Homo sapiens: one gene and its partners. The protein of the gene in region 1 purifies or fractionates together with the protein of each later gene. This does not show direct contact. Each region holds a gene or a part of one and is shown on either strand. Other genes may lie near its edges.

Evidence for each region. Proteins that work in one complex are often made in the same cells at the same time.
Region 2: the proteins of MAB21L1 (region 1) and PBX1 purify together in Homo sapiens (affinity purification with mass spectrometry; 3 studies listed by BioGRID and IntAct, with this or other methods). This does not show direct contact.
Region 3: the proteins of MAB21L1 (region 1) and MEIS1 purify together in Homo sapiens (affinity purification with mass spectrometry; 3 studies listed by BioGRID and IntAct, with this or other methods). This does not show direct contact.

The regions. Positions count from the first base shown.
Region 1 is NC_000013.11:35,473,676-35,480,658, reverse strand, and holds MAB21L1 (putative nucleotidyltransferase MAB21L1), read left to right. Parts: upstream 1-3,969; 5' UTR 3,970-4,520; coding exon 4,521-5,600; 3' UTR 5,601-6,870; downstream 6,871-6,983. UniProt on the Homo sapiens protein: Putative nucleotidyltransferase required for several aspects of embryonic development including normal development of the eye. It is unclear whether it displays nucleotidyltransferase activity in vivo. Binds single-stranded RNA (ssRNA).
Region 2 is NC_000001.11:164,807,167-164,814,194, forward strand, and holds part of PBX1 (pre-B-cell leukemia transcription factor 1), read left to right. Parts: intron 1-375; coding exon 376-511; intron 512-4,823; coding exon 4,824-4,983; intron 4,984-7,028. UniProt on the Homo sapiens protein: Transcription factor which binds the DNA sequence 5'-TGATTGAT-3' as part of a heterodimer with HOX proteins such as HOXA1, HOXA5, HOXB7 and HOXB8. Binds to the DNA sequence 5'-TGATTGAC-3' in complex with a nuclear factor which is not a class I HOX protein.
Region 3 is NC_000002.12:66,508,108-66,515,135, forward strand, and holds part of MEIS1 (homeobox protein Meis1), read left to right. Parts: intron 1-4,041; coding exon 4,042-4,187; intron 4,188-7,028. UniProt on the Homo sapiens protein: Acts as a transcriptional regulator of PAX6. Acts as a transcriptional activator of PF4 in complex with PBX1 or PBX2. Required for hematopoiesis, megakaryocyte lineage development and vascular patterning.

The DNA.
Region 1 (6,983 bases):
AGATGGCTACAATGAGCCTTCAAAGCCACTCCAGCAGTAGGGATAAATAATGTAATAAACTCAACTTCATATTCTTTTTATCTCCCCAGCGTAATAAGCACATATTAAAAAAATAAAACTTTAAATTCATTAATACTTGTGAATAGACTAGCAGCTAGCAGATAATGAAAAAACACCAAACAATATCTATATAAGCACTTAACATGTATGTGCATATCCTTTAACAGATACCTTTTTTCCAGATGAAAGGTTACAATTACTGAGATTTGTGAACATGCAATTCAAATTTAAATCAGGTTTTTTTCGAAAACAAAGAAATATTGCATTCTTGTATTTCTCAACATAACAGGGTTTTTCTTTAAGCTTAATAATGACACTATTTATGAATTACTTTGTATATCCCATATAAGTAAGCAGGTCTGCAGAAGTGGAGACAAGTTATTTAGGAAATACTACTTGAGGCAAAGTTGTTTTGCCACTGTTATTTCGAACGCTTCGAAGTGTTAAGGATCACAATATTTAATTATTTTATATTCACTAATACTACTAACATTTATGATAATGGTGTGCTATGTCCTTATTGCTTTTTTTTTTTTTTTTCCTAACTGGTACATTTTAAATCGAGCCTGCCTCATAAACTAAGTAAATGCAATGTAAAAGTCAGTTAGGCATTAAAATTCTAAATACCATTCAATATAAGCATTTCAAACTATCATTAAATCATGAGATTCTTGAGATTTTTTTCCTTCAATTAGGCCAGTTTTCCTCAATTATCATTCTATTATTAGCTCATGTCAAAGATGTCTGCATGCCTACCACTGAAAACAATTAAGTATTTACATCCTAAAGCATGACACACACACAATTTTATTCTAGTAGCACTGAGTATATTTACAACAAAAAATATTGCAAGACTGGTATAACTGGAGTTTTTTAAAAAAACTTTTCACATTAATACATAAATGTATATTAAGCCATCTCTATGTACTACATAATCATTTGACATAACTAGTTTAATAGGTCAAATGATATTTTTTTAAAATTCACTGAAAAATAGTTAAATATATTACTCCCATAAAATAAATATATCCCCCAAGCCTAGATTAAAATCGGCTGAACTGCACAAAAATGTACTGTTATTTGCAATCCCTCTCTATAGGTCATTTCCATAAAAAAATTTCGGGGATGGAAAACACGCTTCTCCGAATAGCTTAATTCTCGCTTCAACAATGAGGGGCGTCTACGATCACTGAAAGGATTCAGCTACAGAAGGCAATTCATTTCACGTGTTCAGTGTAATAGAAAATCACTGTGTTGCAGCAACAAGCAGTACTTGCACTAGAGTATTATTCATTCCAGGGCGCCCAGTTCACCCACAGTGATAATCGCGGACCGGTGAATCCTATGTTATGTAAATCACCTTCAGCTCCTTGTGTGAGGGGTGCTTAAGGAAGCAGCTTAGAAAACACAGTCCTGGCGTCCTTTAAACTAAATGACTTCACTTTCCTGAACACTCTAGATCTAATGAGTTTCCTAGTATACCTTTTCTCACCATCCATTTTTCTTTCTCAAAGTGCAAATCGTTAGTGAAAAGGCGCTGGTTGCACCAATTAGTTTGCACAAAGTGCTTCGGTGTTTAGCTTCGCTTTAACCCAATTAAGCTGCACAGTGAGCCCCGAAGATGCGCCACCTGCGCGCCTGGCTCCAGCCAGGCCCGACCGGCATCCCTCGCAGGCCCGCGTCCTTCCCGTTGGACCCACTTAAGGTCCCCCGAACAGCCCTGGGGCCTCCCCGTCCTCGGCTGTCTCACGTCCTTGACAACCAAGGGTGTTCTGCAGGTGGCCCAAGAAGGCAAGGGGCGAGGTCTTGGGGCAAGCATCTCTGGCCTGAACCCAAGGGAGAGAGCGCAGGGCGCAGGGGCCCGCGGCTGGGGCTTGGCTGCGACCACACCTGGGCCGGACGTGGGCGGTGCAGGCTGAGGGGTGCGTGGGCAGACCGTGGTCTGGAGCAGACGTGGAGAGTAAGCCGGGACACCAAGTAAGGTTTTCAAATAAGCTCACGCAGAAATAAAGCGTAGCGATCTTGAGCCCAGAGAGGAAAGTAAGAGGGCACGGGAATGCGGAGCAGCGAGAGAGAGGCGGCGAGCGGACGGCACAGGGCCACACGCGCCGGGTGAGGGCAGAAGGCGGCGTTTCCCCAGAGACCACTGCACATCCTCGCCGTCGTGGCTGCAGGTTCTCCGGCTCTGATGGGTCTCCCCTCCAACTGCCAAAAGGTAGTGGTGCATTCACCCGCGATGACGGCAAAGTGGGGAGGGGTTTTTTGGGTGTTCCCAGACCCTGCTCTTAAGGGGATGGAAGGTTCTTGGGAAATAGAGTAGCTGGGTGCCACGCACCCCAATGTATACTATTTTCAGCTAAATTGGAATCTATCACTGTTGGATAAGGAGAAATTAAATAATAGGTGGTTTTGTGATGCTGTGCCTGTGCAAAACAAAACACACAAACAAAAATCAAAAGCTTAAGTAGCAAGTGGGAGCCCTGAAGAATATCTTGTTAAAAGTGACTCTGAAAGTGTCTACAAACATGTTACCGGGAGTTATAGGATTTGACGGGAAATATTCTTAATTGGAAAGACGTGGCATCTAAATTAAAGGTAGACAATTAAAAAAATCCACCTAGTTTTAAAAACCACAACGTAACCACTAAGTAGTATTTCTTTAGTTTCCTGTACTTTGAGGACACAACTGGACCACCAACTAGAAAAAAAAATTCCTCCTCCTGTTTCCAGGTTCCAAAATTCAGAAATGAAATGATTTATTTCATTTTTGTTTTCAAAATGATGTTTAAATCCAAAAAACCCCCCAGATAACTGCAAGTTAATTTTCTTTGCAAATGTTAACCATTTTCCCTTAATTAAATCACACGAAATAGTATAAAATTAGAAGTCTACTGCCAGGTCACCACTTAAGGACACTTAAGACAGGAGATATATCCTTAATTATACATCTGTAAACAAGCCAGATACCCCAAACCTTCAATTTTTCGGGATAGTTATCTGTGAGGAAGCTTGATCTCTATGATCTCACCTGAATTTTATGTACTAAAATACAGGTCACTATGAAATAACGCTAAAGTACTCTGTCCATCCCACAGACAATTTATTTTTCAAATGTTTCTATAAGTGCATATATAGCGTTGTGTCCTGCTTGTAATGCTGGGCAAGTCCACCAAAGTGCAAAGACTGCATCTGCTGGGGCAGAGGGATGTACGAAATATTTTTTAAATATCCTAACTTAAACAGGGGTAGAACATCTCACACACTCAGCAATAATTTTCAGATTCAACAAATGGAGAAAAGAAAAAAACATAAGTAAAAAAAGAGCATACTACCTCCATAACGTTTCAAAAAATCATTTTAACATATAGGAACATCCAGAATGAGAAAATTACACAGGTACTCCTCCATCTAAAGCCAACTTCCATATGCCAGTAGTCTGCATGAAAGAACAAACTTTCAACCTGCATTTAAGAAGACCCCAAGGATTAACAGACGTTAATTATCTTACTCTAAATGCAAGTTAGTGATTTTGTTTTAGAAAACCCCGTCAAGATCACTAATTGATGGATGCCCATTAATACACCTGTATTTGCATTTCAGCGGTAAAAGACAAGCAGGTTTTCGGCACAGAAGAGAGCCGCTTTGCCAAGTCTTTTCAAAACGTCAATATGCTTCAAGTAATACCAAAGCTGAGAGATTCCTCTTGATTTCCAAACTGTCTAGGTGGCCTGAGTGGTTTTCCGCCGGCAGCAGCCTCCTACCTTTAGTTTGTGTGCCTATATCCATGAGTGGGGATTAATTAGCCGGGTTGGAGCTGAAGGAGGCTGTCGTGACGAGCCCAGTGGCGATTGGCCGCCCGCCTGCCTGGCCCTGCCTTTATAATTTCCACACGAGTGCATCTGGGCTCTTAGACAAACCAACAGCAGCTTCTTCTGACATATACACACGCACACTCACCCCGGACACACACTCAGCACACTTTTCCTCCATTTGATTAACAGTGCTGCACACACAATGATTACGGGAAAGCGCAAATAAATACGGAAAGGGGTGCTTATTTTGACTACTGGAAGAGCTTTGCTGGGTCTCAGCGCAACTTTTGTTTTTTATTCCTGAGAAGGTGATCTCTCCATGCGGTTCTCTCACACAAGGATTCTTTAAAAGAGGAAGAGAGACAAGCAGAGGGGGGAGGACAGTCTTTCACTTTAAGAACGGCTGGGCTCAAAGATAAAAGGAAGGGAAAAGCAGCAGCAGCAGCAGCAGCAGCAGCAGCAGCAGCAGCAGCAGCAGCAGCAGCAGCAGGGAAACCAACGCTGCAGCACTTCCGAAAGGCATTTTTGATCCATTTCTGAGTGTTGCGGCCCGTTTCTCCACCGAAGTTGGCTCCAGCTCTAGCAGCCGCATTGGATCCCACAGCTTACTGCGAGACTCCGGTGTACAATCCGGATCTCTGCCCCAACATGATTGCGGCCCAGGCCAAGCTGGTCTACCATCTGAATAAATACTACAACGAAAAATGCCAAGCCAGGAAAGCTGCCATTGCCAAAACTATCCGGGAAGTCTGCAAAGTAGTTTCCGACGTACTGAAGGAAGTGGAAGTGCAGGAGCCGCGGTTCATCAGCTCTCTCAACGAGATGGACAATCGCTACGAGGGCCTCGAGGTCATCTCCCCCACCGAATTTGAAGTGGTGCTTTATCTCAACCAAATGGGGGTGTTCAACTTCGTGGACGATGGCTCACTGCCCGGCTGCGCGGTGCTGAAGTTGAGCGACGGGCGCAAGAGGAGCATGTCCCTCTGGGTGGAATTCATTACCGCCTCCGGCTACCTCTCGGCGCGCAAAATCCGGTCCAGGTTTCAGACGCTGGTGGCTCAAGCGGTAGACAAATGTAGCTACCGGGATGTGGTAAAGATGGTGGCAGACACCAGCGAAGTGAAACTGAGAATCCGAGATAGGTACGTGGTGCAGATCACGCCGGCCTTTAAATGCACCGGGATCTGGCCGAGGAGTGCTGCCCACTGGCCACTTCCCCACATCCCCTGGCCGGGACCCAACCGGGTGGCGGAGGTCAAGGCGGAAGGTTTCAATCTCTTGTCCAAGGAGTGCCACTCCTTGGCCGGCAAGCAGAGCTCGGCGGAGAGCGACGCCTGGGTGCTGCAGTTCGCGGAGGCAGAGAACAGACTGCAGATGGGGGGCTGCAGAAAGAAGTGCCTCTCCATCCTCAAAACCTTAAGGGATCGTCACCTTGAACTGCCGGGCCAGCCCTTGAACAATTACCATATGAAGACTCTGGTTTCCTACGAGTGTGAAAAGCATCCCCGAGAGTCGGACTGGGACGAGTCTTGCCTGGGTGATCGGCTGAACGGGATTTTGCTGCAACTTATCTCCTGCCTGCAGTGCCGGCGGTGTCCCCACTACTTTCTACCGAACTTAGATCTGTTTCAAGGCAAACCTCACTCAGCTCTGGAAAACGCTGCCAAACAAACGTGGCGACTGGCAAGAGAGATCCTGACCAACCCGAAAAGTTTGGAAAAACTTTAGAGGATGATTTAATCAAGAGCCGAAATTATTACCCTTCTCAAAGTCCTTATTAAGTGTAAACTTCTGTTCAATTCCTAATATTCCACTCCGCAGTGCAAACAATCTCTTCCTTTAAAAAGGAATAATAATACAATATTTAAACATCATCTCACCCACCCCCACAAGGGGAGAAAAAGTAGGGGAAGCGGATGGAGAAAAACCCAAAGCCACTAGTATTAGAAGACTTCTTTCCACACGATTTCCTATCTCCCTTGAAAAGTACACCGTAACACTCCGTAAACAGCCCAGCTGTAACGCCAGACCGAGACGAACACTCTGCCTAACTATCAAAGGATTATAGCAATCCTGGTGATTTAGGTGCATCTGTCTGTGAGTAAACACGATTTGGATATGCCATCTGAAAGAAACTGTAATGTATATTTTGATTTGTAACAAATATTGTGATCTCACATTGTCTTTGAAAGTGTGGATGTTGGTGTTTTGTGATTTGGTGAACAGAACTTAAATTGCCATTCTGGATACTTCCAGACATTTTCCACTAACAAAGATATCATTTAAAGGTAGATTTCTTCCTGGTACTTTTATCTGTCTTTGAAAGTGTCTGAACTTTAAAAAGTTTACATTTTGTTTCAAATATTGCTTGTTCTATTTCTAACATTCCATAAATATACTTGAAATGTTATTTAAATATATTCAAAGAAATTTGAATTCAGCTTATATAATAACGCTTGAATATCTGAATTATATATTTGAAAAATGCACTTGAAATACACTGGATAATTACTTTTGTGATTTAGATTTTAATTTGTTGCTGGTTTTTATTTAATTAGATGGTAATAAATGAAGTAAAATAAAAGTTGTTGTGTCTCACTTTAAATTGTTTCCTATCACAAGATGTAATGATGCATTTTGAAAATCAAACCCACTTGAATATCTTAAATATTTTGAGAAATATGCTAATGAAATCCTTAAAAATAAAACATTGGAGAAAAGCTCTTTCTGTATAGGTCCATAAGATAACAATCTACTCTCAGTCTCTAACTTACTTGTAAGACAATTCCTTTCTACAACAGAAACAATTTAAATCTACCTTTGAAAGCTTGCTCTTCTTGTAGCATTTTTGATAATATAAGAAAAAAAGTCTATCATGACAGTAGAGATGACTGAGTTAAAAATCTGACTAATTCAGAGGAAATGAACTTAACAAAGTCATAATGAAACTTCGAAAATTATGTATGAAAACTAATAAAACGATCCTTTCTGACCAATATATTTTATGTCAAACCTTATTTTATGTAATAAGGGTTCCATTAGCAGAATAAATTCATTAGAAATTCAACATTTCTTTTTGACTTCATAGGGCAAGCTAATAAAAGGATGAAC
Region 2 (7,028 bases), on another chromosome or scaffold:
GAATCACTTGAACCCAGGAGGTGGAGGTTCCAGTGAGCCAAGATCACACCACTGCACTCCAGCCTGGGTGACAGAGTGAAACTCCATCTCAAAAAAACAAACCAAGATGGCCCGAATTTTGAAACTTTATACTCCTCACTACTCTGCAAAAATATCTGTGACCACTCTTCTGTTCGGTGCCCAGATGGTACACAATGAAGTATTGAGCAAATGCTTTTAGCGTTGGTTTTGGCATCCAGCCCCTTTTGGTAAATCTGCTCCAAATTCACCTTTTGCTCAAAAATTTGTCTTCTCCCAGAAGTAGATTTATTCTCTCCCATTTTATATTTATTTGGTGTGAGCCTTTTTGTTATTATTTCCTTTCTCTTTACAAAGGCGGAAGAGACGGAATTTCAACAAGCAAGCGACAGAAATCCTGAATGAATATTTCTATTCCCATCTCAGCAACCCTTACCCCAGTGAGGAAGCCAAAGAGGAGTTAGCCAAGAAGTGTGGCATCACAGTCTCCCAGGTAAGCAGCACCTCAAAAGCCTCAGCCTGTAGCCTGGCCATGGCGGGGCCTCCGGGGCAGGCTCTTAGAGGTCTTGCTTTACTGGACATTCATGCCTTGCAAGTTCCATCAGCTATAGCCTTAAAATATCAAGGTAAGCACTTGATGTGTATGCGTATAAGTGAGTTTCTAGGTAAGTACTTGGCAAAACTTGAGAAGAACCAGCAGAAGGAAGAGAAGAATAAGTAGAGTACAATGTAAAAACAGGATTAGGGTTCTTCCCATCGAGCACTCCTTTGCTTCAAATGGGTGAGGTGTCTAAAGTGTACTAGGAAAGTTATCTGCATTCCTCATGCTGTTTTTTCAAATTCAGTCAATTCCTTAGCCATTTTTTGCCCAACCCAGGAACTTTAAGAGTCAGTGAATGGAACTAGTTGTTATATAGCCTTTTAAATGAAAGAACTTAAATGTCTCCTCTTGATGTGCTGACTCTATAACTGATGGGAGTGTAGGAATTTTAACATGTCACTGCGATTACATTGGAATGGTGAACAAAATGTCACTGAATGCCCCCTTCCCCCAAAGAGCAATAACCATAACAGGTGGTGTCTGATGACTTGGAAAGATACATGACATAAAATTTTTATAGGCCTAGAGTTTTCAACACGAATATGAAGCAGAGAAGTAGGCAATAATTATGTGTACGTGTATTTTGTCCACTCAAAAGATCCACCCAAACTTCTTATTCAGTCTGAACCTCAAATACCACCACTGGTTTCTAATTGAGAACCATAGTGATAATTCTGAAATCTATCGGAGAAGGTTTTTCTTAGAATTTTGTCACATGCAGGAGAATTAAATGTACTGATATTTCCATTAAAACTGGGGAGGGGAGGGAGTAGTGAAGGCTACTGTAGCGAGAAATTTCACTTACCATTTTTCAAATGAAGTAGATGCTCTTTTATATAAACTAAGCATCTGTACCTCCTTGAATTGAATCCTGACTTCTGTTAATCCCTGCAGGGTGCTGATCCCATCAACCTGTGTTTAGCTGTACAGAATTAGGTCCAGTCAGAATATAGAGCTCCACAAAAGTATTGACAATGAAGGGACTGTCCAAGCCTTCCCAACAAACTAAGATGATTTTACAGCAGCAAATATCCTTGAAAACATTCTTTCAGATAAAGCAGAATGAATTGACTCCTTTTTAACCTGGGCCTTCCTTAGGTGCTTTGACCCAGCTGGAGGTCATTTTTAGTCTTGACAGTTCTGGGAAACGGGAACGTCAGCGGTCAAACTCAAGTAGCCTAGTTTTTTCTAGGGCTGTCACCATTCTTATCCAAATCTAAACCCCTTTTCCACAAAAAAGGGAATTAATGCTTTTTGATACTTGCTACATGTTTGAGGAATGCTTCTAGGTATGGACCACAAATATGCAGCAAATATCAAATCACTGAATTTTATCATGGAACCTTCTGCTTTTAAAATATAATTAAATTACTACTGTCTGAATTCCAAGTGTGGAATTCAGAATTTCAACTTCCTGTTGAAGGTAAAAGGAATTCTCCTGGAGGTAATTTGTAGTATAGCTGGATACAAGTTAAAATCCTGATCTGTTCCCGCAACCTTCACTTCCTTCATTATGGAAACTCAAGGTACAAATAGTGTGTCCATTAAAATCCTTATTTACATATTGTGTCACCTTTCCCTTTCCTCTGTCCATGCCAAAGTCATGCCATTCTTTCTTCCCCATCACATCTGTCTCTCCCCAAAGCAACTAAGCTACCATTGCTAAACAAGTCCAATGGAAGACAGTATAATATGATGTCATAGAAGGAGCATTAAGCAAGGAGCCTATTTTTGACAAGAGTCAACTGTGGGATCCTAGGGAACTCACTCTTTCTTTTTGGATCTTAGTTGCCCCATTTACTAATCATGGTTTGTTGGATCACATGATTTATTAAATCTTTCTCCTAATTCCCAAAGCCAGGGAATACCTCTTGGGCTGTATCATTATTGTCTTTTTTTGAAGTCACAAATTCTTTTGAAATCTACTAAAAGCTATTGATTTCCCCCATGACCCAAAACAAAGATATGTTGCCCATACACCCAAATCCATCTGAAATCCGCCTATTGACTGTATCTCCTCAGATCCCTAAAGAGCCCTTTTTCTATACCAGAGCTACTCTAAGTGTGATCCACAGAATGCAGCATCAGCATCCCCTGGGAGCCTGTTAGAAATATAAATTCTTGAGTGTCACCCTAATTCTGAATCAGAATCTTTGAGGGTGAAATCTATAATAGAAATTTGTTTTAACAACTTCCCCATGAACACTTAACTTTGAAAAGCAATGTTCTATATGCTTTATCTGAGTGATCTTTTCCATGCTCACAGCTACAAATAATACCTCCATTTGAATACCTAATGGAACTTCTCCCCTGCAGCACCAAACTCATAAATTTTACTTCCTAATGGACTTCATCATGGCTCTGCCCAGAGGTTCTTCAAAATTAACTTGTTCAAAATGTGAATCAAACTCTTCCCATAAAACCTACTATTCTTTCTGTATTTCATGTCTCATTCTGTGTCTGTTATCTATACATCCCTAGTGCCTAACGCGTATTAGGCCCTTAGTCCATGACTGTTGAGTAATTAGTTCATTCATGATAACACTCATTTTATACATTGTCCAGATCATTGTCTGTTGGACAATGCAGGAAGTCCCTGAACTGACCTAGCACCTTCCTACCAGTTCCATTGTTGTCATTTAGAAGGGTATCATTCCCACAACATGTCCCCTCTTTACCCCCTTCAGCTCATATTTTTTTTACATATAATTGGACCTCAGGTATTTCTTCTTCAAAAGTCCTCTGAAATTATCTTCATCTTTTTCCCTTTTCTTTCAGCTTGTGCAGTTATCTGAGAAAAAAAATCTCCTTACCTTTTTTCTTCTTTTCCTATCCCATAAATCAAAAAGCAACCATAATTATGACTGATTCCTATGAATAGTGAAAGTTATGTCAAGAAAAACATAAATTTCAAAGTGAAACTAGATATGCAGTGATCCTGAAATACACCCAAAAGTGTCCTTCCTCCTCCAGTTTACCTCTTTTTCTGTAGACATCAGTGTTTACAATAAATAAAGCATTTTCTTATTGAATTTTTTTCTTTTTTGTTTAATATTGTGGTGGTACAGACTGATTTTTTTTTAAAAAAGAAAGGCTTGGCATTTCTGCTGTAGTATAAACTGTATAAGCCTTTCAGTGCTATCCTTATAAGATGTTTTAAGTTTGTTAATGCGTTTAAAAAATTAAGTATAGTTTTGCAACAGTTTTCTTTATCTGCCGTCGTTGGGAGTTAAATATCAATGATATGTAAGCTGTGGTACATGTGGGATCAACTCCCCCTTCCCTCACCAGATTCATAGTTTGTTTTGTAATTATATAAAAACATCGACATTTTAGTTCAAAATCATATCTGGAATGTGGGATATAAAACTTTCCTTCCCCGGGCAGGAATTATGGGGGTAAAACTTGAATTTAACTGTGTCTCCACTTGTGTCTGGCAGAGGTCTTGGTATGAAGGGAGCAGAGGTACCAGATCAAGCCAAGACACCTGCTGCGAACCACATGAAGGAAATAAATTAACAAATGAAAGTAAATTAGGTTTATTGTGTCTGCTGGCTTTAACATTTAAACCCTAGAATTCAAGGGGATAATCATTTGTATGCTACAGTTTTTCCTTATGTAGATAACACTAAGCTTTACACAAAATAGTCAGTGAAATCTGGTAGATTGAATTATATTGATCCTAAGGTCTATAGTGAAATACAGCTAAGAATCTCAGTCCACATTAAAGTTATGTAACTTCTAAAAATTTGCAATTAATCTATCACACGAAAGCACCTATATGGACATTTAAAGATCTGTGTATCTTGATGGCATCAAGCCAGCTTTCACATTGATAAACGCTAGGGGCATTTCTCCTGAAATGTTAGGTATATTTTAGTGTCATAACTGAAGATGTAAGCAAATTTAAAATGCTTGCTCTAAATTAAAAGGGTTCTAGCTTAAATGAGCAGCTCCTTTATAGGAAGATTTTTGTCACAGTGGTTTCGCTAAATTTCAGTTATATTAAACAAGAGAATCGCATTTTATGTAGTTGTCCTTTTGAAGCTCTTACTTCAGATCTTTTTACTGATGTTGCCAAATTATTATAGGATAAGACCAATTAGCTTACCTCTTCACCTCTCCCATAAAGCCTTTTTTTTCTTCTGCAATGTTTCTGAAGGATGAAATGTGAACTTTCTCATCTTCTCTTAAACTACTCTAGGTATCAAACTGGTTTGGAAATAAGCGAATCCGGTACAAGAAGAACATAGGTAAATTTCAAGAGGAAGCCAATATTTATGCTGCCAAAACAGCTGTCACTGCTACCAATGTGTCAGCCCATGGAAGCCAAGCTAACTCGCCCTCAACTCCCAACTCGGCTGGTTAGTTTTTTCTTTGATTGGGGGTGGGGGAAGGAATTGTTCTCCATTTTTATACTGGCTGTTCCTACATTGGGATTTTCTTTTAATTTGTTAGGCTTTTGATTGGTTAATTTCTGTATTTGATTGTATTTTTGGATGTTAATGTCACTTTGGGCTCTTTCTTTCATTTCCAAAGAGCAATCTGTTAGACTTTTTACAACGTGGGTTGTCTGGAGGTTTGCATTAATTTGTCTATTAAGTTAAGACCAAAGTAAATTGGTTAGCTTGAAGAGACCTCTAAATTCTCCTCTCAGGGATATCAATAAGTAAGTTAGACATAGTGCTTAGAGATAGTCTATTGGGATTCTGTCATTTGGCCTGTTTTATATAAAGCTTTTATCCTTGTCAGTTTTGCTGTTCCAACAACATAATGTCTGGGTCACTTATTAGCATGCATTCTATGCAGAAATATTTACTCTTCTAGCAAATATCTTATTAGAATGCTTTGGTATGCAAAGCCAGGCTATGAATATTTCTATATATTGTTTATAGTTGTTGTTCTTTATTGTTTTTTGTTGGTCTTCTTTATGATTATCGGTCATGAGCTATGTAATAGGCTTTGTTTCAGGAAATATGCATTATATCACTAATTTAAGAGTTTAGGTCAAAATACTATATTTTGGGGTGTGCCTTGTGTCATCAGTTCAGAATTTCTACATGTGAAAAAATGTAGTTAATAATGCAAAAAATATAACCTTTGTGTTTGTATGCTATGGAAGGCATGTGGTAATTTTTTTTTCCCTTTGGTAAAGGAAAGACAAGTATTTTCTCATTAAATAAGTTTGGTTTGACTTTGATTAGGGTGCACAGCTAAGAAAACTGATGATTCTAACTTAAAAGGTTACCAATTTAAATATGTTTGATCGTAATATGATTACAAACCTAATGTCTAACATTTTTTAGAGTATGTGGTATCTTTGACCACAAAGCTTGTTTGTCCACTAAAATAAGTTTTCTTACAGCGACTCGTTACTGGAGAAATGTAGGGTTCCACAGACTGATGTCTTCTGTGAGCTTCCAGATGCATAAATTTGTTATGATAAGGTCCTCCAAGTCACTGGGCTATACCCAGCACTTCTTTTGTGGCCTTCTTTTATCTAAATGGAATCATGCATGAAGAGTAGCCTGGGCTTTTTCAACATGGATATAATAAAACAATGTAGAATTCAATCCAGTTTTAATTTTCCCAGCACTGCAGGTTAGATTCCTATGAGGAGCATATTTACTTTTTTAGAAATATTTTGTTTTTTTCTTCCTCCATCATGGTGTGATTGACAAGGGATCAAAGCTAACAGGTTCAATAACCAGAGAGAGTTCCATCTTCTCCATCTGGTCAATTATTAAGAATTTCAGACCCAACAACACCAGTTGAACTGTGCTGCTAGGCAGACATTTTCACTTGTCTCTTTGGAAGAAGTACAATTCTGTCAACATTAGCAAAAATGCACTCAACACTCCTGCAAAGGTTATCATAATGCAAAACGATATCAAAATGACTTTTTCCTGTCCCTGGTATATCTGCATCGCAGATGGCTTAGCATGATTTATGACTAGTCCTTAGAAAAGCCCTGTGGACTTTCTTCATTACTAAATTTGTAACTATTTATTCTTTCCTAAAGCCCTTAAAAGAGAAAAATAAGCATTTTAACCCTCTATTCTGTGTTTAAGAAATATGGTTGCCTCTTATGGAATGTCAGACTATGATTACAGTTTTCTAAGGAATTTTTTTCTGGTGGCTTAAACATCATGTGACTATTCTGAGCACAAAGTAAATTATTATGGAAAATTTGAGCTAAGCCTTCCAATTGTGCGTAAGTTGTTGGAAATAATCTGCACAGGAACCCCTTTGTAGTGCTTTTTCTAAAGTAGAGGCAAAAGAAAATACTATTGTATGTGTGCAATAGCATGGAATTTTAAAAGATAAACATTTTAACAGGAAAAGTTATAAATGGGCTTTTCTGTATTTTCTTTTGCTCTTAACCAACCTAAATCATCCACACAGGTAA
Region 3 (7,028 bases), on another chromosome or scaffold:
TTTTGATAGCTCGGAAACTGAAAAGTGTGGCCAAGATTCTCCCCCTGCTCGTTAGAAACCTGGTGTTTTTTTAAATAGTGTCTTGTTGCTGTGCAGAGTTCCTCTGCTCCTTGAAATCTGACAGGCAATGAGTCTGCTCCAGTGATCTTAAATCCTTTTAGACTAATTTGTGAGAGAGTAGCAAAGTACTGTAGCTAGCACCTTTGAGTCCAGCATCCAAGAGGCACAGAACCAGGTATTGCCAATTAAGGAGCCATTCCGATAATCGTATCAAAGCAGATTGCTTTAGAGTCTTATAATGCCCGAGCCTGTGCCTAGAGAGAGAGGAACCCAGAGTTTCACTTCAATGAGGGGGAAAAAAGAGACTGGAGTGGCCCGGTCTCATCAGAGCCCAGGAAGTTGCAGGGAGAGGATTTCTGCATTAGAATGTTGCATATGTGCGGCCTGTGTGTGCGCAGCCCCGGCCGCTGCCTCTGCATAGCCAAAGGCCATTTTCAGGAGCCTCTGGCCCCTCAGTCACTGGCCTGCTAGTTAATTGCCACACGGACTTCATGACACATGGGCAGATAATATGACATTTTCAGTTTCTGTCACTAGCAAACGCCACAACGTTGCTTGCACTAGTTGCTAAGAAGCTGTCAGAAACCATTAGCGGTTGGCTAAAGTCGCCCTATGGCATTTCCTCATAGCATCAGCAAAACGAGCATAAATCACCCACTGGAGCCTACTGCTATCCTAATGAGGCTGTAAGCTTGTTTATGGACTAGCATCATTTTTATGATTATTTCCACCTTTTCAGTTTGCCTTCATTTGGCGGCAGGAGAAGTCAGCTCCAGGAATGAAGTCACTGCTGACATTTTACAAATGTGGTTCAGAGCTGCTGCCTGCTGCCGTGTGGTCGGCCGGCGGTTCTCCAAGTTTGTTTAGTGATCTCAAAAGTAAAAAAGGAAAGAAATTCTCGAGAGACCACATTGAGGTGACTATATCAAATTGCGGAGTGAATGGAAATGCTAAAGGTACAATTGACCATTTAGACTTTCCTCTGAGGTTGAGACATTTCCAGATCAATTTTCAATTTTAGAAAGTGGAAGAGGTTAAACAATTTATTAAAATCTATGAAAGTGTTTGCTTTTAGAATAGTCTGTTTTATTATGCTCTTCTCCTTCCCCATCTTCTCCATTTCCCTAACTTGTGTCGGAAAGGAGCAGGGTTTATTGTTTTAGGCTTTTCTGAACATGCACCAGTATTTACACTGGATTGAAAGCATTTGCTTCCAATGAAAATCTTGTCTTAGATTACAACCCAGCAGTGTAATTTCCCTCCCAGATGGGAGTAAAGTAGCTGTATTTGCCTAAAAACAGTAGGAAGAACAAACTGTGCATTAAGCCAAGGCTGTTTTTGGCTTGAGCTAATGATGTAATAGAAACCTTTTATTCAGGAGAGGTCACTGCCAGGGACTGAAGGGGGTGATCTGGCTCCTGCTTGAAAGGTTTCTCCATTGTATCTACATAAGTCTTCACTTAAAAAATTCTGTTCCTAATGCTTCTGCTTTCATACAGCAGAAATAAACAGGAAAGGTTCTGGTGAGTGTTACACATGGAATGCAGAAAGCCTTCCTCTCCTAATGGAGTATATAATTCAGGTGCCCTCAAGGCACGCTTTCAGGAATTCTTTTGCCTGAGGTAATGGGAAGCTAAGGTTGCTTTAAGGCCTTGATTATCTATTGATGCACAAAGCTGGAAAAAAGTCATCTCTGCTGGATTATAGTAGATATTTCCATAAATTATCAATGAATTCTCTTCTAGGCAGGCACTATGCATTGCTTGCTAAATTAATCTGAAGGGGTTTGAGGTGGATAAAAAGGCTATTTTTTTTAAAGGTGGAAAATAATCATGGGGAGGTGGTGAAAACAGTATTGTAAGGTTATAAGCTTTTCATTTTTAATCAATGATCAGGTCGTATGTGTCTTTTCCTTGGTTACCTTTTGCATATTGAAAGTGGATTAGCCCATTGAAAATTTAAATGCTGTTGAGTTGTTTTCTTTTCTCATGTTTCTTTAATGAATTGTTATTTTATATGGTAAACTGCTTCTCTGAATAAAAAGGCTGTTTAAATACTGGACTTTCAAAGAATTTATTAGGCAAATCCAAGGGGACTTCTCATAAAATACTTGGTTATGCAAATAAAGAGTTTGGTTGGGTGGAAGGAGTGCTGATTTACAGATGTAGGGGTCTGGAACAGCACAGACCCCAGTAGTTCCATGCCAGGGTACATGACCTTGGCCCAGTCAGAGAACATAGCATTTTCTTCACTGATACAACAATGGCTTTGGAGTGGTGGGTTTTCATGATCTTTTCCAAGTGAACACAAGATATGTTTCTGTTAAACTTTTAATGAAACAGATAGATTTTAAATATAATAAAATTACAGATTTTTAATGAATAAAAGTTTAGAATCAGAAAAGTTTTGCAAAAGTTTTGCATTTATAGCATATTCTGTAATAATAGTAGAAATGTTGGAATTAGTTTGTTCCTCACCCAACAAACTTTCTAAACTTCATCTCAGTACAAGTTAAGGCAATTGAAAAAAAAAAATTGAGGAATGCTTTTCTTTTCTTTTTTTCACAGGAGAGAGATGGGTCTGCTGAGGGAGCTGTTAAAAACAGTTGATTAGTTGCAACATACCTACTATAGATTAGACAGAAATAACTGAAATTGAACTAGAGAATTATTTTTTTATGTAGGACCTAATAACAGAAATGAGAAATACAGAAATTCATGAAGCCATGGAAATGAACCTGAGGCTATGTGCAGGAAACTTGTCTTACCAAAGTTTCAGGTTCTTTGGGTCGTGTAGTTGGCTCTCCAGTGGCTTATTTAACCCAGTGAATGTGCTCTTGGGTGTATTTTTTTTTTACCTCATTTCTAAGCCTGGCTGCTATAGCTCTTCCGTTTGGGCCCAGATCAACCTGTCGGTTTCTAAGAGAACGGTTGACCGAGCTAAGCTACTTTTTAGTGTAATGGGTCTTGTCCTTTGTTGTTTTCCTTTTTGACTTTGATGCCAAGGCAAAAAATACCTACTTTCCATTTGTACCTTGTAACTTATTTTGAACAGTTATATGGGTTAAATTTTTATTTTTTCTTATTAAACATGGCATTTTAAAAAAGAAATACTAACTTTTTAAATTTCATTATGTCACAGAGCCAAAATATTTTCTAGAATAAAGAGTGTAAATGTTATAATAAAAATCAATAGAAAAATAGGATCCAATATAGAGGAATATGTTAGCAGGTGATTTTTCAGTGTGAAAAATGCTAGGTTTACCTAGCATGAATTTTAGAAACTGCCTGAATTATTAGTGTAATACAATTCTAATTTACTATTAATTTAGCATTACCTTATTTGATTTACACAGTAATTGTTTTTTAATTAAGAAACTATGTCAGGGGTTTTTCCTTTACTAAACTTGATGCTTTCTCTCTATTACAAGAAAAATTATATTTTATTTGAAGCATTCCTATGTCAAACTGCTTATATGATGGATTACCTACATTTCCCCATCCTAGTTTAACTAGTCTTAAGATAGATCACTTGTGGAAATAGTTGATATCTTAAATGAATCTTCTCACAAGTCAATGTCAATGACTGTGGGATTTGAATGCCCAGGCAGCCATAGCGCCACAGCTAATGACTGCCACCATGTTTAACTCCCCGGTAGGAGTTACACTTAACCTGTCTCAGCTATACATATTGGAATAATTACCATAGCAACAAAGCCACAAGGGGATTGGATATTTCCCTCCATTCCCTTTGACTTTTGGCAATGTTCTTTGGAAGAAGTTCTTTAGACCTGACTGCTCTTGAGCCTAGGCCTTGTTCTTTCTCTGTCTTGGAAAACAAAACACAACAAAAAAACAGTACCAAAGAAACTATTAATCATTTAAATTTGCTCTTTTGGTTTTGTTTATATCCAAAGGCATTCTATTTGAATAAAGCATGTCAAGGTAGCATCAGTCAAAATTTGATTCGCTATGTTTGCAGGTGATGGCTTGGACAACAGTGTAGCTTCCCCCAGCACAGGTGACGATGATGACCCTGATAAGGACAAAAAGCGTCACAAAAAGCGTGGCATCTTTCCCAAAGTAGCCACAAATATCATGAGGGCGTGGCTGTTCCAGCATCTAACAGTAAGTGGATTCTAAATGACATATATAAACTAAATATGGACAATGAACCAGTTTTTATACAAAAAAATGAGAAAAAAGTGATCCCTCTGGACTTGAAATATTTAATAAATAACTGTGTTCCCACAGTTTTTGCAAAAGTATTAGCACTTATTTCTTAGATAGATACCCCAAATGAGAAATTTTATTTAAAATTCACGATTGCGATTTTGTTAACTTTCATAAGTTAAAAGATTTAGGTGTTCATGTGCACTTGTGATTTTAAGTATGTGTTTTAATGATGTTGCTTTTCTAAGTGTGACCCTTAAGTGCTCAGAACCATCTCCTACTAAGAAGAAAGTTAGACAAACCCTAGAGAGAGACTTAATATCTTCTGATGCTTTAGTGGATCTTTACAACAAATGGTCCACAAAAATTTAAATCATGTTGCAATGGCAAGATGATCACATAATTTGCTTTTAAGTGGTTTGAATGCACTGGCTTCCATTACAAAACATTCATGTAAGTCAGAGCTCCACAGTGAAAGTTGTCCCTGTATTTAGAACTGTAAAGGAAAACAGCAATATAGAGTCAGCTCTTCCTGTGTAGTCCCTTGTGACTTTTCAAGCAGAGTAACAGTTTATATTGTCTGTGCCAGTATTGCTGTTTTCACTGCAGGAATTCTCCTGGAGATGTGAGAAACTGGAGATTTGGGGCTTTATGCCACTGGGGGATTTGTTTTGTTTGGTTATTGTTCTGAATGAATTTCATGTTCAAAATATTTATAATAATAATATTTTGGTGGATATTTTTGTAAGTGCATACCAATTTAAAGAAGAAGATACAATGAAGATTTGTGGATAAAATAATATTTTAAAAATCAACAAAATTGTTGACCAGAGGAATTTCAATATTAGAGACAAAGGATGAATTTAGACAGGTTGTAGCAAAGTTACATAGATGGATAAATGTTAAAAACTCTTGAGGGTTGTTTTTTAATATCAGGAGAAAATATTTTGTGTTACTATTTTTGTCTTAGCTTGCTTTTCCTAAAGTCAATTTTTCCTTAAATATTAAAGTTAATCTTGCATTGTCATAAACACTTGCAGAGCCTGTTTACCTTCATACCTGGGCCCACATTCAAAGCCATGTTCCTCAGTGAGTTTTACGGGTACAGAGATACAAACTCAGGGGATGTCTGCAGGTCATGTTAGTTCTGCTCCTCTGGATAGAGGCTGTGCCTCTAATAATACTCAAGGGTATAAATTAATCCAGATTTTCCAGCATCAGTGAATAAGATAAAAGCTGAGAGCAGCAGGAATAGCTAAAAAAAAAAAAAAGTTTCCTCCCTTCTCTTCTTCCCATAATAATTCCAAACAGTATCTAGACTACACTACAGTTTTTGAGTAAACTTCAGGGCTTGGCTATGCTGGAAATTAGTTGGAGATTTAGATTATTTGAGCTGTTTTGATTTTAACATCATATTAGGTTTACCTAGAATCTGATTCAGGCACCACTACTTATCTGACACCTGTTGCATGTGTGTAGATATTTCAATATCTGACTCCTGCAAATTCCCCACTGAGGATTATCAATCACTAATGAACTAGGGGAAAGAGGACTCAGGTCTTGAGGGCATATCATGAAAAACGAATGATATGACATTTAGATAAGAAGTGGCAATTGGTCAAAGGTGTGGTACAATGATGCTGATGCAATGATGCTAATATTTTATCTCCAGAAATAACCAGCTAACTCGCTGTGTGGAATGAGTTGGTGTGGTGGATAAAATCAGGTTGGCCCTGAAGTCACAATCAAATAATTTCTATTTCCTATAGACTAACAGAAACAATGAATAGATTTCTTCAGCCCCCATCTCAATCTGCAAAGGAGTTTTGGCTTTACTTGAAGCTGAGGTGCCCCTGAATAAAATATAATCAAATATTGGTTCAGACAGAATCAGGAGAGAGAGAAGCAAGCTATTTTATGCAGCCACTAGTTTTCCTGTTTTTCTAGGTTGTACCCTTGTGAAGACCCTTGCATAGAGCTACATTATCTTCTTGAAACAAACAAACAAACAAAAAACCCAAATAAACTTTCTAACAGCCCGCATGATTTTACATGCATTGCATTGCTTATATGGACTATGTGTTTGTTACTGGGGCAATTGTAATCGAAATTATTCATGAACTGCCTGATTTCTTGAGACCTAAATAATAGTCTTCAGTTTTGAGGTCTTTGCTGGCCTGTGCCACTGCCCTGGAAGGGGAAGCCCATTCATCCATGTTTCCCCAGCTTTCTGTGAATGTTTATAGGTGTTACCTTGTGGTTTCCATTGGATATTTCTACCTCCATTACCCACTCCAATGCCATCTGCTCATACAGAAATATTGATTAATGATAATGGTCTGTAGATAGCTAATTGTTCTTATAACATCATCTGAAGAGCAAAGTTAAGAGATATGTTTAAATTTTTCATCTTTTCCTTCCCCCAATGAAAAAGATTCCTTCCCACTTCTCTAATTGCAAGAGCAAATAGACCTCCAGCTATAAGGAACACCCGTTACCCTTGTTTTGTAATCCTTCTTGAAGGAATGCATGGACTGCTTAGGTAATATTTATAGTAAGGAGCTAATTTTAATAAATTCTATTTTAAAAACCTATAGAATCTAAAGAGAGTTTTGTTGTTGTTTGTCTAAATGTAAGTAACCACTGACATCTCAGTACTAATTCTTTAGTGACTTTATTTCAAGTTCTGGGAGGTCTTCAGGGATGCACAATTCATTAGGAAGACTGTACAAATTTTAAATGGTCACGTCATTGCTATGTGATTAATGCAACTTATCTAGGAAATCCTTTCTGAAT